Regions from separate parts of the Homo sapiens genome. Here region 2 is linked to region 1. A link means that fine-mapping ties the variant in region 1 to the expression of a gene that starts in the linked region. Tissue or cell type: whole blood. Region 1 holds a variant in brackets; the other region holds the start of a gene. All regions are shown on one strand. Distances are between the middles of the regions.

Evidence for each region. PIP is the estimated chance that this variant, and not a neighbour inherited with it, causes the effect.
Region 2: AOPEP starts here. The variant in region 1 is fine-mapped to the expression of AOPEP in whole blood (INTERVAL, PIP 0.91).

Annotation. Positions count from the first base shown.
Region 1 is chr9:94,769,138-94,779,484 of GRCh38, forward strand. It overlaps AOPEP (aminopeptidase O (putative)), which reads left to right. Exons shown (of 17, transcript NM_001193329.3): 3 at 3,865-4,031. Among named protein-coding and RNA genes, the nearest start is that of MIR2278, 36 kb to the right of the region's middle. The variant CA/C (reference allele first, on the strand shown) is at 5,174.
Region 2 is chr9:94,721,812-94,732,158 of GRCh38, forward strand. It overlaps AOPEP (aminopeptidase O (putative)), which reads left to right and starts at 4,888. Exons shown (of 17, transcript NM_001193329.3): 1 at 4,888-4,940. RefSeq lists enhancers at 4,500-4,669, 4,615-5,157, 4,680-5,159.

The DNA.
Region 1 (10,347 bases):
TTTCATGACTCTGGGAAGGCCCCATGTTCACCCATCCTAAATTTGCTGGTAGATGACCAAGATTCCACCAGTAGAGCTTTATTCAGAGGATAAAACCTTCACACTGCTAAAATGTAGCTACCCAACTGTAGACTGATTTCAGGTTTGCACTGTGATGTCAGACATGCATAGGATATCAGCTTGTGAAACAGCAAAAAGCCATTGGTTATAAAGACTCTTAACTCCCTAGCGCTTGGTTTGGGCATGTTGGGAAGGGAAGAGTGAGCCTGCAGCTGATGAAGAGAAAAAGGCCAAGAAAAGAATAGGCTGGGAGCACAAAGATAATTTACATTTTCAAGGTGTGCCTACCCTAAGACCTCCCTCTTATGTGATTGTTTTCCTGCTTTTGAAAGGATTTCAGTAAGAATGTGATTGAGTCTCCTATCAGACATGGGTATATTAATGGGGTGTGGCTTTTAGATTGCTAACTTGATCTACATGTTCAGAGTTATAGCTCTGGATACCAAGTGGAAGCTAAAAAAATGTTAGACTTTAGCAGAAAAGATAACCCAGCCATGGAAAGAGGAGGGTGGGAATAGAGAATTGTAAGCACACTGGGGAGGGTGGAGGTGAGAGCTTGCTGGGGGCCTGGCCAGGTAACTGACCCCCTTGATGGAAGAGGTCAGGTGCCCAGATGCACAATGGCAGAAAGAGCTTTCAAGAGCGTGACAGAAGGGATCAGGACAAAATTCTAGAACAAAATGTCTAGAACTAGATAGCTAAAGAGGACATAATACTGAACTGGGAAGGAAAGGATGGTGACAACATGGTGGATTTTAATCCAGTTGGTGGAAGGACCAGCCCCCCATCGACTGACTCAAATATGCCTACAATATCTATGCGTCCTACTTCATCAAATCATCATTTTCACATTTTCTGAGGCAGGTCTGATTTCAGACATTTGAACCCATTCATGGACACCACACTGGGATTAGGAAAACATCCTTTCTGTGTCCATAAAAGTGTCGTCTGTCATGTGCTTATGTAAAGCCCTTTATAAGCAAATTAAACAGGTGCATGCCCTCCACCTTTCTCCCTGGACCCATCCTGTTCTTCCTTTCTTGTTCAGTAGCTTTGCCATCCATCTTATCACTTGAGCCAGAAACCTCAGAAAAGTCTGTGTTAACTATGGCTGCACAACAAATTACCCCCACACTTAGCAGTTTAAAAGAACAAACATTTATTACCTCTCACAGTTTCTGAGGCTCGGGAATCTAGGAGCAGCTTAGCCGGTGTCTCTTGCTCAAAATATCTTGCAAGGTTACAGTCCAGCTGTTGGCCGGGGCTGCAGGTGTCTCAAGGTGTGCCAGGAGCTGGAAAATCCTCTTTCAGACTCACTCGCGTGGCTGTTGCAGGCTTTGGTTCCTCACTGACTGTTGGCCAAAGGTCTCTGTTTCTTACCATGTGGGTGCCTCCCTAGGCTGCCTGAGTGACTTCATGACACTCATGGCCCAGAGTAAATGATGGGAGAGAGAGTGAGAAAAGATAGTCTAAGATAAAAACCACAGATTTTAAAATAGTCTCAGAAGTGACATGCCGTCACCTCTGCTGTATCCTGTTGCATCCCTGTCCCAGGTCAAACCTTTGCATTATCACGGCCTGTATACTTGTAGAATAAGTGTACTGCAACTGCCTGTTTGCTCTACACAGGTCTGTTTGGGCACACAGATCTGGTACAGTATGGAAGGGGACTACACAACGATGTAAATATTAGGAGTAAGGGGTTGTAAATATTGGAGGCCAGCTCAGCAGCTGGCTACTTCACAGAAGTCTTCCTTTCCTTCTCCCTCTTCTTCAGCACATCACTTACTAAGTCCTGATTCTTCCTGCACAGTATTTCTCAGATTTGACCTCATCTCAAATCCGATTGTTTCTTTGGGGAAGTGGTATGGAAGCTGATGGAGGCAGCCTTGGGGGCCACATACCTAAGGGCACAAGTGGAATGTGTAATAATATGCTAGCATGGCCTCCAACCCAGCCTTATAGAGAGGAGACCAACATCTTGGTAAGCCAGTCTTTTGGGGAGGATTTCTTCCCTGTGCAGGCAAGGGAAGACCCATAACACAGAGTTACCCTATGCAAATTAGGTGCTTATTGAACAGAACAGACAATAGAAGTCACTACCTGCTCCCCGCTTCACCAGCCCAATACCCATTTCACCCGTGACTCAGAAGTTGAGGAGCTTCCCCACAGTCATTTGGTAAGTTGGCAACCCAGGTGGTACAAAGGTGTTTAGACTTTCTGATCTTTCCCTGCCCCATGTCAAACCTTCACATTATCATGGCATGTATACTTGTAGGATAAGCGTACAGCAACTGCCTGTTTGCGCTGAGATCCATTTTCTGCTCTTATTGTGATCTTCTCCAAGTGACAAGGAACTTCATTTCCTAGGCTCTCTTGTCTTCTGGCTTCCTGCTAGGTTTGGCCAGTGGGGGCCACTGGTGGAAGATTTGAAAGCAGGAGCTGGCTAGAAATACGTTACTTCTGTAACGTATTTCTCCTCCTCCTGTTTTCCTTTGGCCCCTTCAGTGTGGTTGAGTCTCCTGTGGTCCCAGCTCCCCCTGGACAGTCCCCACTGTGACTCTGGCTTCTGCCAGATGACTCCTGCCTCATAACCCAGTAATCACCCAGCTCCTCCAATATGAGGAGTCACAGCTGATTACTGCTGTGGCTAATCCCTGGGTTGTCTTACTGTCCTCTGATTGGTCTCTCCGCTCTTCTATCATTTAAACTCATTCCCGAGTTTAAATTACCTGTTTGTTAAGACCTAGACTGGTTTCTCTTTTCCATACTAGACCCTGACTGATGGAGTTGAACCATCTTTCTGTGTTTTCTCGCACACTGTGTGAACACAATAAATGCTCAATTATAATGATGTTAATGAAAAAAGAAAATGAGTTTATCCAAAAGAAGTAGTGCTTTGCTCTATTCATTTACTTTATAAGTCAAGCTGACTAAAACTACATATTTGTCATTTGTCATAACTGAAAAACAGAAAGTAGAAACATTCTCCTGAGTTTTTTATGAGGAGTCAGTCTTGTTCCTTCTACTCTGGTGTCAAGAGTGGACCCTTTGATCTTGAGAATCTTTATCTTTGTCAACCATGACTTTATCATGGGACAGATCTTTCTTGGTTTGGGTAGGGCTGTACTTTCTAATCGCAGCAGAATGAGTCCTAATGCTGTGTCATTGGTTTTGCACATGGTGACTTGGTAACGACTCTGCGCCCTTGGCTTTCCCATCACAAGCCTGGTTGTTGTGACCCACAGTCCTGTTCATATGCCAGCCCCTGTTCTTGGCCTCCACACAAGGATTCCCACAAGGGTTCTATTTGAGATGGTGGCTTCCAAGATTGGGGGTATCTGCCTGCCAGCCCTGGATTTGAGACCACCAGCTTGTTTTTCCAAGCATTAATATCTCAGTGATCTCCAAACATATTTTCTTTTCCAGAATACTTTCCAAAAGATTTGTAAGAATGTCTCTAAAAATTTTCTTTTGAAGGCACCAGGGCCTGAGGGGAGGGGGCAAGGGTAATATAACTTGGCCGATTAGTATTTAAAACTTTATCCAAAAAATATTTTTCTCCTTAAATAAACCAACTCTTTTTACATATTTAAGTAATTCATCTGAGAGAAGTAACCACTCAGCTATTCACATAGCCAGCCCTTGGCAGCTTCAGTTCAAAATGCTAGGAAACCAGTCAACTACAAAGTTTCAAATGTTTTCTTTGAAAGCTCAACTTAACCTGCACTACCATACTGGTGAGAAAAGTGACAACTCATTTTAAAGATTCACCCCCTTTCTTTCTTTGTCTCTCTTCTGCAGGCCATGTGTTTATACTGTGGGATCTCCCATAAACAACAGGGCCCTTTTTCCATGCCAGGAGCCACCCGTTGCCATGTCAACATGGCAGGCTACAGTTCGAGCAGCTGCATCTTTTGTTGTTTTAATGAGTGGGGAAAATTCTGCCAAACCAACGCAGCTTTGGGAAGGTACTGTACATGTGTTCTTTGCTTATTTATGTATTGCACACATGTGGACCCAGGAACCCAATAAACAGTATTTTTCTAAACTTTAAAGAGCTCCTTTATTAGTTGGGTTGGAAATGATCATAGTATAAAACATCCTGCCAGGGAAAACAAGCAGGGGATGGGGAGGGACACTTAGGAGCCTGGGCATGGGATTTGGGGCTCTTCATACTAGAGTTGTCGGTTCATAGACTATTTCAGCAGTTGCTTTCACCTGGTGGTTTGTAGGCCATAAGTAGGTGGTCTTGACTGAAGACGTTCTGAACAGGCAGGTGTACCATGGAAACACCATTAGAGTTGAGTTGTCTGTGATTTGTTATGGTGTCTGTACATGGTTATTCATTATGTTAAGAGATAGTGCTCTTGTTGGCTGGCCCACTGGAGTTGTCTTAATGAAGCATCTTTTCTACACATGGTTTGCCTGTGTAAAGTTCTGAACCAAAGGTGTATAAGAAAGATGGAAGGCAGTGCTAATGCATCATCAAGGTTTTATCTATGAATTACTTCTTATTGCAGCATTTAACTTTTTCAGTGGAGATCCTGAGCATGTTGATGCCAGGAAAAAATTTGTTTATTTGAGAGACAGGGTCTCGCTCTGTTGCCCGGGCTGGAGTGCAATGGCTTGATAACGGCTCACCGTGGCCTTGACCTGCCAGCCTCAATTGATCCTCCCACCTCATCCTGCCAAGTAGGTGGAACTACAAGTGCATGCTACCACGCCCAGCTAATTTTTGCACTTTTTTTGTAGACATGAGATTTTGCCATGTTGCCCAGGCTGGTCTTGAATGCCCAGGTTCAAGTGATCTGTCTACCTCAGCCTCCCAAAGGTGTGAGCCACTGTGCCTGGCCAGGAAACATTTTTATAGTTATATTATTTCTTTATTTAAAATATGGCATCTCCTTTGAGACCATCCTGGCTAACACGGTGAAATCTCGTCTCTACTAAAAATACAAAAAATTAGCCGGGCGTGGGGGCGGTTGCCTGTCGTCCCAGCTACTCGGGAGGCTGAGGCAGGAGAATGGCGTGAACCTGGGAGATGGAGCTTGCAGTGAGCTGAGATGGCGCCACTGCACTCCAGCCTGGGCGACAGAGTGAGACTCCATCT[CA/C]AAAAAAAAAAAAAAAAAAAAAGGGCATCTCCTTCCACATATTTATTATAGAAACTTTAAAATATACAGAAAACTAAAAATAAATTAAAAAAATTATAGAGAAAATTATCGCTAAGATTTTGTTACATTTCCTTTCAGTATTTAAAATCTATATGTTTTGTGCAGTTATCATCCTCAAATTGTGATAGCATATGATGGTGTTTATTCTGCCTTTTTCACTTATAGTGTATCTTGAACAATTTACAGGTCGTTAAATATTTTTAATATGATTTTAACATTGGCACAATATTTTTTATCTGAATATATCAGAATTTAACATTTCTATATTAAATATTTTGATTATTTCAGTTTTTTTCCTGTTATAAATAAAGTTGCATTAAATTCCAGGGGAGACATTTTATATAAAATTAGAATTACTGAGTCAAAAGTTGGAACATGTTTAAGGTTGTTGGTACATATCCCATAATGTTTTCCAGAAAGGCTGTGCCAATTTATACATTCATCTGTAGTTATGAGGGTCCTTGTCACCTGGAACTTTGCTCATCTGATAGGCAGCAGCAGGTCTCTCTTTAATTGGATTACTTTGATGATTAGTGAGTTTCACATGTCCTTATATGTTTCTTAACCATTTTCATTTTCTGTTTATTTCCTTTGCCCATTTTTTATACTGAAGACCTAGATTTTTGCCATTTGTCTTATTTTTCAATTTTATTGGCTCTTTAAAAAAAGATATTAATTTCTTATATTTATGAAAAGCATTGCTCCCAGCTTTTGGTATATCTTTTAATTTTATATGATGTGTCTTTTTATGAAGTTAAATTTATTAGATTTCTCTAAGATTCATTTTGTTCTGATATTTTTATAGTTTAATTTTTATAACTCTTTAATCAGTCTGTAATTTATTCTCATCAGGTTGTGAAATGAGGACTAAACATTGTCTTTTTTTTTCAAATAGAAAACCAGTTGCTTCAGGATCATTTATTGAATTTTTAAATTTTGTGATGTCTTTATCATAAGCTAGATTAACGTATGTACTGAAGTCACCGATGAGTATTTACTTGATTTTTTTTTTTTTTTGAGACAGAGTCTTGCTCTGTCGCCAGGCTGGAGTGCAATGGCGCGATCTCTGCTCACTGCAACCTCTGCCTCCCGGGTTCAGGCGATTCTGTCTCGGCCTCCCCAGTAGCTGGGACTACAGGCATACACCACCATGCCCAACTAATTTTTGTATTTTTAGTAGAGACAGGGTTTCACCATGTTGGCCAGGATGGTCTTGATCTCTTGACCTCGTGATCTGCCCGCCTAAGCCTCCCAAAGTGCTGCAATTACAGGTGTGAGCCACTGCGCCCAGCCTTACTTGATTCTTAAAAACAACACATTTAGGCTGGGACAGTGGCTCACGCCTGTAATCCCAGCACTTTTGGAGGCCCAGGTGGGCGGATCATGATATCAGGAGATCGAGACCATTCTGGCTAACACGGTGAAACCCCATCTCTACTAAAAATATAAACAAACAAACAAAAAATTAGTCAGGCGTGGTGGCGGGCGCCTGTAATCCCAGCTACTCGGGAGGCTGAGGCGGGAGAATGGTGTGAATCCGGGGCTTGCAGTGAGCCGAGATCACGCCACTGCACTCCAGCCTGGGTGACAGAGTGAGACTCCATCTCAAAAATAAATAAATAAATAAATAAAATAAAATTTTTATATTTAAAAATAAGTAACATTTACGTGGTTCATTTATAGAAGAACAAAGGACAAAGCATTATGTGCAATAACGTGTTTTTCTTACCTCTATTTCCCAGACATCCAGTAACACTTCCCCAGGCAACCAAGGTTACCAATTTCTCTTGAATAATATGTTTTTTCTCTTTTGTTGTACAAATTGTAGCATGCTAGACACATTTTTGTATTGTGCTTTCCCTTTTAGAATAAATTTATTTTATAGATATTTTGTAACAGAGCGTAAAGAGTATCCTCATTATTTATTTATTATTATTATTTGTTTTTTGGAGACGGAGTCTTGCTCTGTCACCAGGCTGGAGTGCAGTGGCGTGATCTCGGCTCACTGCAACCTCTGCTTTCCGGGTTCAAGCATTTCTCCTGCCTCAGCCTCCCGAGTAGCTGGGACTACAGGCGCACGCCGCCATGCCTGGCTAATGTTTTGTATTTTAGTAGAGATGGGGTTTCACTGTGTTGCCCAGGCTGGGCTCGAACTCCTGAGCTAAGGCAGTCCACTCGCCTCGGCCTCCCAAAGTGCTAAGATTACAGGCATGAGCCACTGCGCCCGACCTTTCCTCATTATGTTATGGCTATGAGTATCCTATAAATGGATGTTTTACAATTTAGTTAACCAATATCTCTGGAATTCATATCAAATAAGGAATTGGATGGGTATTTACTCCATTATCCTTCCGCACCCATATTCTCCAGTTTTACTTAATAAAACTTGGGATTTGGGACTCACATTTTCTCTATAACTTTTTGTATTATGTATTTTCTAGGAATTACTATTATTGTATTTTCATTCAGTTTCAAATGATTTCATAATAAGTATTTAGACTTTCTTCATTCTTGAGCTCTTAAGTTGGCTGGGAAATAGCTTCATTTTTTTTTTTTTTTTAGAAGACTGGATGAATGGTACATTTTCTGAGCCCTCCCATATTTAGATTGGCTTTTTGTTGTATTCACTTATGAACAATCCTTGGCTAGGTATAACATTCTTTTTTTTAATATTTTTATTTGTAGCAGCCCTATTAACTGAAGTATAACATTCTTGAAGGAAAATTTTTTAAAATGAATGATTGACATTCATTTGAATGATTGACAGAAAACTAATGTTAAGGCTGGGCGGGGTGGCTCACGCCTGTAATCCCAGCACTTCGGGAGGCCGAGGGACGGATCATGAGGTCAGGAGATTGAGACCATCCTGGCTAACACGGTGAAACCCAGTCTCTACTAAAAATACAAAAAATTAGCCGGGCGTGGTGGTGGGTGCCCGTAGTCCCAGCTACTCCGGAGGCTGAGGCAGGAGAATGGCGTGAACCCGGGAGGCGGAGCTTGCAGTGAGCTGAGATCGTGCCACTGCACTCCAGTCTGGGCGACAGAGCGAGACTCCATCTCAAAAAAAAAAAAAAGAAAACTAATGTTAAAATAACATAATGTAAATCTCTACTGCTGAAATTAGGAACAAAAATGTCACTATGGAAAATCAGTAGGACGAAGTGTAAATAAAAATGAAAAGGCAAGCCACATATACCGGATGTATTTGTAATACATATATCTGGCAAAAGGCTTGTACCTAGAATTATATAATCTTTTTTTTTTTTTTTTTTTTTTTTTTGAGACAGTGTCTCATTCTATTGTCCAGGCTGGAGTACAGTGGCGCGATCTCAGCTCACTGCAACCTCTGCTTCCCGGGCTCAAGCGATTCTCTCACCGAGCAGCTGGGATTACAGGCATGCACCACCATGCCCAGCTAATTTTTGTATTCTTAGTAGAGACAGGGTTTCACCATGTTTACCAGGCTGGTCTTGAACTCCTGACCTTCAGTGATCCACCTGCCTCGGCCTCCCAAAGTGCTGGGATTACAGGTGTGAGCCACCGTGCCTGGCCTATAAAGTATTCTTATAACCTAATAATAAAACAATAAAAAACCCCACATGAAAGAAAATGAGCAAATGACATGAACAGATGCTTTTCAAAAGAAGATATAAGAATGTGCAAAGTAAATGAAAAGGTGCTCAACATCGTCATCAGGGAAATGCAAATTAAAACCATAATGAGATAGTATTTTACACCTAGTTAGAGGGCTAAAATTAAAAGGACAGAAAATACCAAGTGTTTCCAAGGATAAGCCACAACTAGAACTCTCATACATTGCTGGTGAGAGTATGAAAGAATGCAACCACTTTGGAAATAGTTTGGCAGATACTCACAAACTTAAACATATATTTACACGATCTAGCAATTTTACTCTTGAGTATTTACCCAAGAGAAATGAAAACCTACGTCCACAAAACGATTAATACCTGATTGTTCACAGCACATTTTCCATAATGACCAAAAACAGTCTAACTGTAGATGGATAAACAAATTATGGTTTATTCACACAATGGACCACTACTGATAAATCAAAAAAAAAAAAAATAGCTAGTGACACCTGCAACAATATGGATGAATCTCACAAACATTATGCTGAGTAAAATAGAGTCACACTGAATGACCCTTTTTATATGAATTTTGAGAAGAAGTCAAACCAGTCTGTACTGATGGAAACCAGATCAGTGGTTGGCTGGAATGGGGTTAGGAAGAAATGAGTGCAAGGGTACAGCGGAATTTCTGGGGTAATGGAAATGTTCATGGGGGTAATGATTATGTAAGTGTGTTTATCTGTGAAATCTCATTGAACAACACATTTAAGATGTACACATTTATGGCCAGGCGTGGTGGCTCACACCTGTAATCCCAACACTTTGAGAGGCCAAGATGGGCGGATCACTTGAGGCCAGGAGTTCAAGACCAGCCTGGGCAACATAGTGAAACCCCGTCTCTACAAAAATACAAAAAAATTAGCTGGGCGTGGTGGTACACGGCTGTAATCCCATTTACTCAGGAGGCTGAGGCAAGAGAATTGCTTGAACCAGGGAGGCAGAGGTTGCAGTGAGCTGAGATCACACCACTGCACTTCAGCGTGGGTGACAGAATGATACTGTCTAAAAAAAAAAAAAAGTACACATTTATTGTATATGTGCGGTGGTTAATTTTAGGTGTCAACTTGACTGGATTAAAGGGGTTGGCAGATACACGCAGCTTCTTTATCTGGGCTCTAGTGTCTTGCTGGCAATTGTCCAGTCAGGTTCTGCTAGACTCACATAGGCTTTTTCTCTGTTGTCTCTGTTTGGTTCCCTGACTTGCTGAATTGATTGAGTATATGAAACACTGCAATTTCAGATAGGCACTGATAGGTGGCCTACTCACATTTCTGCCTATAGCAGTGTGCTTGTGATAACTCCACCTCCCAAGATGCCATGTGGCTCTCCCCACCCTCACCTCACCAAGCCTACATATTTTCTCATTCATGGTTTGGCCCTGCAGTAAAGCCTTGTGTTTGACAATGTTTCCCAAACTTGAGCATTATTCTTCTTTTTAGAGGGAAAGGTCTCATGATTTACCA
Region 2 (10,347 bases), 47 kb before region 1:
ACATCTGCATTTCAATCAAAAGGAAGGATGATGGAAAAAAAGAAGACAAACTTTTGTCTTATCTGTTTGGTAAGGATGGTTGCCACACCTTGCTACATGATACTTTCTCTTACAGCCATTACCCAGTGCATAGTCACAGGGCCACAGCTAGCTGCAAGGGAGGCTGAAAAATGTTGTCTTTCTTCTGGGTGGCCATGTTAGAATTAGATAAAGATATTTTATTACCTAGAATGTGAGCGTTCTAGTATTATGAAACAACAACAATAAAATAACAACAACAACAACTGGATATTGAGGACCGGCCAGCAATCTCTGTCATCCTCTCCTCTATTGAACTTAGTTCATCTGGGCTAATTCTGTCAGAAATTCTTTGAACTTTAATCCAATGCACTAAATCTCGGTGAGGATATGAGTAGATTTCATGGAGCTGACAGCATCAGAGGGGAAAAAAGTCACTAATGAAAATCATATCTCAACCCATTAATGAAAATCATATCCACTAGGGAGTACACATTCCTAAGCCCAGACCTTAGGGGTATATCTCTGCTTGCGACATGAATACTCATCAATGTAAGTTTTGCAAGTGGAACACTTAGTATTCTCAGGAGTAACCAAATGAATACAAGATGTTGACTCATGTCACTTTGACTCCATGAGGTGTTGATTTTGTATATATAAACACAAACATTTAAATCAAAATTATATTTGCATCAATGATTTGCATCAATAAAAGTATGTCCTGGAGCAAATTTCATTTTGTAAATTTATAAAAAATTCATTTTAATATTTTATGTTTTAAATTTTATATTACATACAAACTGTTATATAACATTTATATAACTGTTTCTCATTTTTCTACTTCACTAGAATTATTTTCACTGGAATCATTTCCAGTTCTTTTACATGTAAGCTTCCCATTGAAGTTACAATTTAGCATTATTTTTTGACTTCATGACAAATTATAGTCATTAGAGTTTCTGACATTATGAGTTTTCTTTTGTGGTTAATTAACCAAGACCAGTTGTTTTTCCGCTGAAACTTTGTAGATCTAAATCTTGTCAAAAAGATTTTATTGATTTTTTCATCAATTTAAAATAAGTGACACATTTTACCATGTCTGTTTTTCTCAATTTTTCCAGTTTTCTTTTCTTTTTTTTTTTGAAATGGAGCCTTGCTCTGTCGCCCAGCTGGAATGCAGTCGCGCGATCTCGGCTCACTGCAAGCTCCGCCTCCCGGGTTCACGCCATTCTCCTGTCTCAGCCTCCTGAGCAGCTGGGACTACAGGTGCCTGCCACCACGCCTGGCTAATTTTTTTTTGTATTTTTAGGAGAGATGAGGTTTCACCGTGTTAGCCAGGATGGTCTTGATCTCCTGATCTCGTAATCCGCCCGCCTCGGCCTCCCAAAGTGCTGGGATTACAGGCGTGAGCCACCGCGCCCGGCCAATTTTTCCTGTTTTCAATGTTACCAATCAGCAGTTATTTTTCAGTCAGTTTTAATTTTATAACTAAATTGTGTTCAGTTTTGGCCACTGTTAATTTCATTTTGTATTTATTTCTATCAAGTCCAGTTTTCCCTGTCAACCTGGTCACAATATCCTTGGCATAACAATAGCCAGGCAAAATAACAACAACAAAAAACCCAATGAGATAAAACCCCAAATTCCAGGCAACTATTCTGACATGTTTGGTGGCTATAAAGATGGAAATAAATACATCTTAGGAATCTTCTAGTTCCATCTTCTCATTTTATAAGTGAGAAAACTGAGGTTTCCCAAGAAAGATGAAGTCTTGAGCCAGTGCAAGAGTTATTAAGGATGGAGGTGATGAGCAGGTGTGATAAATACTGATTGGACTGTGGGATGACAAAGAGGGACAAGTCTAGGATGATCTTGGATTTCAGGCTTGGGTGACTGGGTGGATATTGATGCTATTAACTCAGACAAAAATACATGAGTAGGTCAGGTTTGGAGGTGGGGACAGAGGACGAGTTCAGGTTTTTAAATGCTAGCCCGATGTTTAAGTGGAATCTGGATATTTGAATAAGTTTTTTTTTTTTTTTTTTTTTTTTTTTTGAGACAGAGTCTCGCCCTGTAGCCCAGGCTGGAATGCAATGGCATGATCTCAGCTTACTGCAACCTCCGTCTCCCAGGTTCAAACCATTCTCCTGCCTCAGCCTCCCAAGTAGCTGGGATTACAGGTGCATGCCACCACGCCCAGCTAATTTTTGTATTTTTAGTAGAGACGGGGTTTCACCATGTTGGCCAGGATGGTCTCGAACTCCTGACCTCAGGTGATCCTCCCGCCTTGGCCTCCCAAAGCATTGGGATTACAGGCATGAGCCACCGCACCCGGCCTGAATAAGAAATTTTTAAACAGGTCTGAATGGAAAGATAGACTTGGGAATTGTCAGCTTACAAACTTACAGGTGGTAGTCACCTGACAAGAGACAAAGTCACCACCCTGGGAAAATACACATCAAGGAGGCAAAGTTTGTGCAGGCCTGCAGGCCTCATATGGACAGCAGATGTGTTTTGTTTGGTCCAAAACAGAAGTTTAATAAAATGTGAATTAGTGAGCAATGTTTAAAATTTGTGAGATTTCATGTAAATATCTGTATATCGATTGGTGTTTTTTTTTCTTTTTCTTTTTTTTTTTTTGAGATGGAGTCTCACTTTGTCACCCAGGCTGGAGCACAGTGGCGTGATGTTGACTCACTGCAACCTCTGCCTCCTGGGTTCAAGCGATTCTCTTGCCTCAGCCTCCTGGGTAGCTGGGATTACAGGCACCCACCACCACGCCCGGCTAATTTTTGTATTTTTAGTAGAGACAGGGTTTCACCTTATTGGTCAGGCTGGTCTTGAACTCCTGACCTTGTGATCTGCCCGCCTCAGTCTCCCAAAGTTCTAGGATTACAGGCGTGAGTCACCATACCCGGCCCTCGATTATCTTTTAAGCAGGGGATCTGACATCACCGGGTCAGCATTCCTGGTTGGCAAAAATCAACAGAGCTGTGGTAGGGACCACGAGCTCCAGATCACCACAGTCTCTATCCCTGGGCTTCACTCCTTTGTGTTAACTGCCCGGCTGCTGTAGGCTTTGGGGTTTGCAGCCTCTGATGGAGCCTAAGAAAGCCAAGGGAAAAAAGAGCTCAGGAAAAGGGAAAGTGGAAGCCAGTGATAGAAACTGAGGAAAGATAGGTGACAGGAGAACCTAGAGGACTGACTTGGAAACAAGCAAAGAAATCAAGTTTGAAAGGAGGTGAAACAAACCTTGTTTTAGCTATATGATCCAGCTATTTGCTTAGGCCCCAAATTTAAGAATTATTTTTGACACTTTTCTTTTCCTTATCTCCCTTATCTAAACTCATCTCCAAGTCTGTCACATCTACCTCAGAATTATTCCTGAAATTTGTCCATTTCTATCATTTCTTACCTGCTCATTGCAAAAGCAACTCTTCTCTTTGCATCCTTTTAAATTGTTTCTCAAAAGTTTCATGTATACACAGCAGCTAGCAGGGTGATGTTATAAAACTAGATCCTGTCACTTACGTGTTGATAACTCTTCACTAGTTTCCCCTTACACTTCGAATAAACTCGTATTCCTCACAGGAACCCAGAGAGTCTGTGCATGATGGGGACTCTCCTTGCCTTCTTGATCTCATCCTCTGTTCTTCCCATGACCTACTTTCTCACTTTCTCCAAGGCACCACATTCTGCCCCTTCCCTATTGCTTGCTCACATGTAGATTCTTCTCTTGGCTGTTCTTTCCTTAGCTCTCCACAGAGTTGGCTGCTTCTCAGTTTACTGAACCTCTTCAGAGGGCACTTTCTTGACATCTCAAATCAAAAGGTCACCTGTCTTCCTTTAATTTCTCAGCAACTTATTTTCCTTCTACTTTTTTTTTTTTTTTTGAGATGGAGTCTCGCTGTCGCCCAGGTTGGAGTGCAGTGGCGCGATCTCGGCTCACTGCAGGCTCCGCCCCCCGGGGTTCCCGCCATTCTCCTGCCTCAGCCTCCCGAGTAGCTGGGACTACAGGCGCCCACCACCTCGCCCGGCTAATTTTTTGTATTTTTAGTAGAGACGGGGTTTCACCGTGTTAGCCAGGATGGTCTCGATCTCCTGACTTTGTGATCCGCCTGCCTCGGCCTCCCAAAGTGCTGGGATTACAAGCGTGAGCCACCGCGCCCGGCCTTTCCTTCTACATTTAATGTTTGCTTTCTCAACTAGAAAGTAATCCCCATGAGGGAAGGCACAGCGTCTGTCTTGTTCCTGGTTGTTTCCCCAGCTTTTGTTAAGGGTGCTTGCCTGGCACACAGGAGGACCTTAAATTGTGGTGGAATTAATATGTGAACAATAGTCACATGCAGCAGAGGTGAGACTAGGCTAAGGAATAAAATTGCACATCTGTATTTCAGTAACTTTTTTTAAATTTTATTTGAAACAGGGTCTTGCTCTGTGGCTCAGGGTGGAGTGTAGTGGCACGTTCATAGCTCATTGCAGCCTCGAACTCCTGGACCTAAGCAATCCTCCTGCCTCAGCCTCCATAGTAGCTGGACCACAGGTGCACGCCACCACACTCGGCTAATTTTTTAATTTTTTTGTAGAGACGGGGCCTCCCCAGGTTGCCCAGGCTGGTGATTTTTTTCTTAAGCTTCATAAAGATTTTGCAATTAGGAATACTAGGGTACCAGGGCAACTCTACAAGCCCTAGCCAGCCAAGCTGCTCGCGCCCTCCTATGACCGCGGCAGCTCCGCGCCTGCGCAGATCTCCCCCGGGCGGTCTCGCCCTCTCATCCTAAGGGGGCGGGCCTAGCGGAAGGCGGGTCAGGCAGAATGCGGCCCCGGGCGCGTGTGGATGACGTCACCCGGCGCGTGCCGGGGTAGCCCGTAGTAACCCCGAGTCTGCGGAAGTGGTGACCCGTGGGACGCGGCTGAGACAGGTAACCTGTTCGCTCCCTGTTGGGTCCCTGCCTTCCTCTCCTCCGGCGTCGGGATGGCGGCGGGGACAGCATCATTCCGTTCTGAAGGCGACGGGGAACCCTCCCTTACCCTCACTTTTGCTCGACCAGCGAGGACCCGCATCCCCTCCTCAGTTCTCCCAGACTCCTGGGGCTGAAACCCATCCTGGGGACTGGGCGGAGCGGTCACATCTTACCACCTCAGCTGTAGAGGTGGCCACGGGCTCTGGCTGTCTTCTCCCCGGCGGCACAGACCTTTCTCAGCCTCTGGGTGCCTCCTCCTTCGTCTCTTGCCTCCAGGCCCTCGGTCACCTGCCGGTCTCGGCTTCTAGCCCCACAGGGCTCATCTCCAGTCTTAAGTAGGCAGAACAGTTTCGATTCGATTCATTTCCACTTGCAGTGAAACCCATCCGCCTCTTCTTCCCCCGGAGGATCTTTACTGAGAGCACCACATTTTGAGTTTTGGGGTCCCTATAGAACATTCATACTGTTAGTCTGGAGTTTTGTTCATGAACGCATGCATGGGCGGGGAGGGGGTGGCACAGTAATGTGATTATGATTATCTATTGTGATAATAAAATATCCACTTAGGATCCAATCCACTGTTGAGATGCATGGAACAGTTAATAGCATTGCATAAAATGCCCCTTGTACCTGATTTCTTTTTGGTTTTCGTGCAATGATGACAATTACCCTTGCAAAGGTAGCCCTCAAAATAAGTAACATAACCCGCTAGGGATGTTTAGATCGCAAAAAAACAACAATAAGGTTCATATGGTTGATAAAGAAATAATATGGGTTATTACAAAACCAGACAGAATAGATGCTGAGTATATGGGACGAGAAGCAGAATTCTGAAATCCTTGATCTCATTGATTGTTTGGTTTTGTATTTTTAAAATACTTTTAGTCTGTTCCATTTTTGAATAGTGTATATTGTGCTTCGTATAAGTCTGGGAAGCCTTCCAATGACTTGCTAATTGGGAAGATTAGATTCTTCCAATATTTGGGGGACAAAGTAGAATAAGGTTAGGGTATAATAATAGTTGCTTACTGTTGGCCCATCTGCTTTATCCCAGGTACTGTGTTCAACACTTTGCATATGTTTTCTCCTTACTTCATACAACCACCTCGTGAGTTAGGAATTATTACCCCCAATTTATAGAGAAGGAAATTGAGTTTCGGTTATATGAAATTGACTTGCTAAAAATTCACAGTTAACTAAATGGCAAAATCAAGATTTAAATTCAGGTCTGAATATAACTTCAAAGCCTGCACTTTTCTTAAAGGACTCTACTAATGCTCAAATTTTAGGCTTTTTACAATAGTTGCACACAATTTTATGAGTTTGTTCACCTACACAAATGATTTAACACTTTTTAATATCTTTAATACTGTGTTAAGTTCCCATATTCCTGGAGTTAAAACACCTGGAAAGCTTAATTTGTGATCCTTCCTGCGTGCGCGCATGCACACACACACACACACACACACACACACACACCATCCTTATTTTTAAGAATGAGATAAATGGCAAACAAGATTGTGCAGTAAAACCCTGCTGTTTGGAGTCCTCAGGGAATGGGTAATTTTACAGTTGAGAGCTTAATACTTCTTTAGAAATGAAAATTTTATTGACTCTTTGAGATGGAAATTTTAAAAATGTACTACACAATTTCTTGCCTTCTTAAACACTCAGGATGCCGAGTAGATTTTTGACCTCACTGTGCCCGGTCGAGGACAGTTCTTCTAAGGAATTTGGCTGTGAGGAGATAAAGAAGAGTTAGAGGGAGATGTGGACTTAAGGGAGGGTTTTGTTCATTTGTGGGTTTTTCCTGTAAGAAGAGACTGGAACATTCACATTTGTGAGGTGGAAAGGGCTTGGAAACAGGAAGATGCTGAGGTCAAGGATTTAGAGGGCTGGATGATTGATGAAGCAAGGTCCCAGAGGCCACCAAAAGACGATCTCCAGAGCAGAGGCCACCTTCAGGCTATGCGGGGCACGAGGGACACTTCTTCCACTCTCCTGGGAGGGATGGGGAGAAGGGTGGGCACAGACGTGAGTGAGTGTGTGGGATGAGGAAGAAATGTGTGGAAGTTCTTGTGTGATGGAGCAAAAGTTCTTAAGTGCAGCAGGTGAATTTGCTGACATTGCGTTGATTTGTTGGGATAGGGATTGAGGAAAGTTGGTAGAAGTTTAGAATAATCACTGAGGGAAAAGGACAGGGTTTGATGGGGAGACTAGAGAGAAACATGAAGGGTTGCCTGTCCAGGAAAGTTGGTGTCCCACCAAAGTTGGAGTCTATGAATATCTAGAGTCAGATATTCTTGTGATCGTGATATTTATTCAGCTTTTGTTGAGCTTAGTAGTTTAGAAGTACAGAAGGTGGATGATTCCATTGCTTAAAGGTTTGGTTTTATAAAAGTTCTGTCAGAAGGATGAAAGAGCAAGAGACTTGAGGTTAAAATGTTCCAAGAGTGTTTGAAGAAATGAACTATGTTATTCTAAAGATGTCCATAGAGGCTGGGGGCACTGTGGCTCACTCATCCCAGCACCTTGGGAGCCCAAGGCAGGAGGATCCCTTGAGCCCAGGAGTTCAAGACCAGCCTGGGCAACATGATGAAATCCTGCCACTACGAAAAATACAAAAATTAGCCAGGCATGATGGCATATGCCTGTAGTCTCAGGTACTTGGGGGAGGCTGAGATGGAAGGATTAGCTTGAGCCCAGCAGGTCGAGGCTGCAGTGAGCTGTGGTGGCGCCACTGCACTCCAGCCTGGGAGACACAGTGATGAGACACTGTCTTTAAAAAAAAAAAAAAAAGAAAGAAAAGAAGACCATAGAGCAGGGAGTCTCTACTTCTGAAACATTTATAATTCTCTGCTGTGGGGGGCTGTCCTGTGCATTGTAGGATGTTAGCAGTATCTCTGGTCTCTGCCTATTAGATGCCTGTAGCAGACCTCTCCAGTGTGATAATCAAAAATGTCTCAAGACGTTGCCAAATGTCTTCTGAGGGGCAAAATCAGCCCCAATTGAGAACCACTGCCATAGAGTCAGAGGAAGCAGATGGATTGGAGAAAATGTTAAAGCTAAGGGACTGGAGTCTCGATGAAAAAAGAAAGAGCTGGCAAGTAAGCAAGAGAAAGAGTAGGAAGACTGGGAGGCTGTGCTTGGAGGTTAGACTATTGAAATTATGTCACAGGTGGAACTCTTCCACATAATGAAAATGTCTGGGCCGGGCACAGTGGCTCACGCCTGTAATCCCAGCACTTTGGAAGGCCGAGGTGGGTAGATCACGAGGTCAGGAGATCGAGACCATCCTGGCTAACGCAGTGAAACCCTATCTCTACTAAAAATACAAAAAATTAGCTGGGCGTGGTGGCGGGCGCCTATAGTCCCAGCTACTCGTGAGGCTGAGGCAGGAGAATGGCGTGAACTGGTGAGGCGGAGCTTGTAGTGAGCCGAGTTTGCGCCACTGCACTCCAGCCTGGGCGACAGAGCGAGACTCCATCTCAAAAAAAAAAAAAAAAAAAGTCAAGAATGGACCATTGGTCTTCTTCTGTCTAGTATAAATTTTATAAACAGATTAATATCAGAGATCATTAATGCATTTCCTTGAGAGTGAAGAAAAAACGACATCCAGGCCTGTTTCCTAACAGCAGTGATTATTTCCACTTCCAGGCGTAGTGACCATTGTTCAGCCTGACCTCCATTAATTCTGTTGAGTAATTCTTTTGAAAAGTGATGTTTTTTATTTCTTGACTCATAAAGCGTGTAACTTACATGCTATTTGAGAATAAACCTCTATTTTACATTGAGATTTATACCAAATGGCAAAATATAGGATCTCTCTATCTTCGGACAGAATGAGAAGAAACACTTTTTCTACAAGTAAAAATTGTTTTTAAAAAACAGCAAAAAGGATGAAATAGTTGCCTAAATAAGAGGCGTAACTCAGACGTATTCAGAAACTAGTTTTCAACCTTAGTTTCTGCTGCAGGTTTTCTCAGGATTGTGTAGTCATCATCACAGTGGTTATGAAGAATTAGGACATAGTTGGGTCGGTGGTTGTAATTCTGACTGGTTGTTTAATATAATTATACTATTTTATGTACACTGAGAAATTTATATACTAAGTAAAGCATGTCTTGTAATGTTAAAGAAAAAAAAGACGATTAATTTGCTACGTGCAGTGAAGGCGAAGGTTGTTGGCGCTGAGTAGGTCATTTTGAGAGTGGGGAAATGGAGATAATATTACCTGTGGTTAGGGAGCAGGTTGGAAAAGCAGCAGCAGGACAGCCTCAGAGTTTCTGAAATGACACCAGGACTAAGGCTTTCTGGATGCTTGTTTTCTCACTCCGCCCGGTAAGTGCTTCTCAGCTCTTTTCTAGCATAATCATTTCCCCCAACTTTTACTTCTCTCTTGTAGTGTTTTAACAAGTCAAGAGACTTATCCAACTTGTTTTTTTTTTTTTTGAGACGGAGTCTCGCTCTGTCGCCCAGGCTGGAGTGCAGTGGCGCGATCTCGGCTCACTGCGAGCTCTGCCTCCCGGGTTCACGCCATTCACCTGCCTCAGCCTCCCGAGTAGCTGGGACTACAGGCGTCCGCCACCATGCCCGGCTAGTTTTTGTATTTTTAGTAGAGATGGGGTTTCACTGCGTTAGCCAGGATGGTCTCGATCTCCTGACCCCGTGATCCGCCTGCCTCAGCCTCCCAAAGTGCTGGGATTACAGGCGTGAGCCACCGTGCCCGGCCCAACTTGTTTTTTTAAATAGTACTTTTTAGGTGAATAGTTCTTCAGTATTCTCTTGATTTGATTTTGTCATCTTTTTGCTAGGCCTCCAAAAAGCCCTGGTTTCTGTGCTATGTGATATACTTTTAGAGCAGTTCTTTTGCATTTGGGCATCTGATTATAAAGTCTCTCGTTGGTAAAAGAAATGTCAACATATCTTTAAATTTTACAACTCTTAGAAGGTTTTTTTTCCCCCTGCCTTTTTTCCCTAGTCTGTTCTCTTTTGCCTTTTTTTTTTTTTTTTTTTTTTTGAGACGGAGTTTCGCTCTTGTTGCCCAGGCTGGAGTGCAATGGCATGATCTTTGCTCACCTCATTGGTTCTAGCAATTCTCCTGCCTCAGCCTCCCAAGTAGCTGGGATTACAGGCACCTGGCACCACACCTGGCTAATTTTTGTATTTTTAGTAGAGGTGGCGTTTCACCATGTTGGCCAGGCTGGTTTCGAACTCCTGACCTCAAGTGATCTGCCCACCTTGGCCTCCCAAAGTGCTAGGATTACAGGTGTGGGTCACCCCGCCCAGCCTGTTCCCTTTTACTTTTTATTGTTCCATATTCGTTTTTAACATATACATATGTACAATGTTAATTGGGAACTAA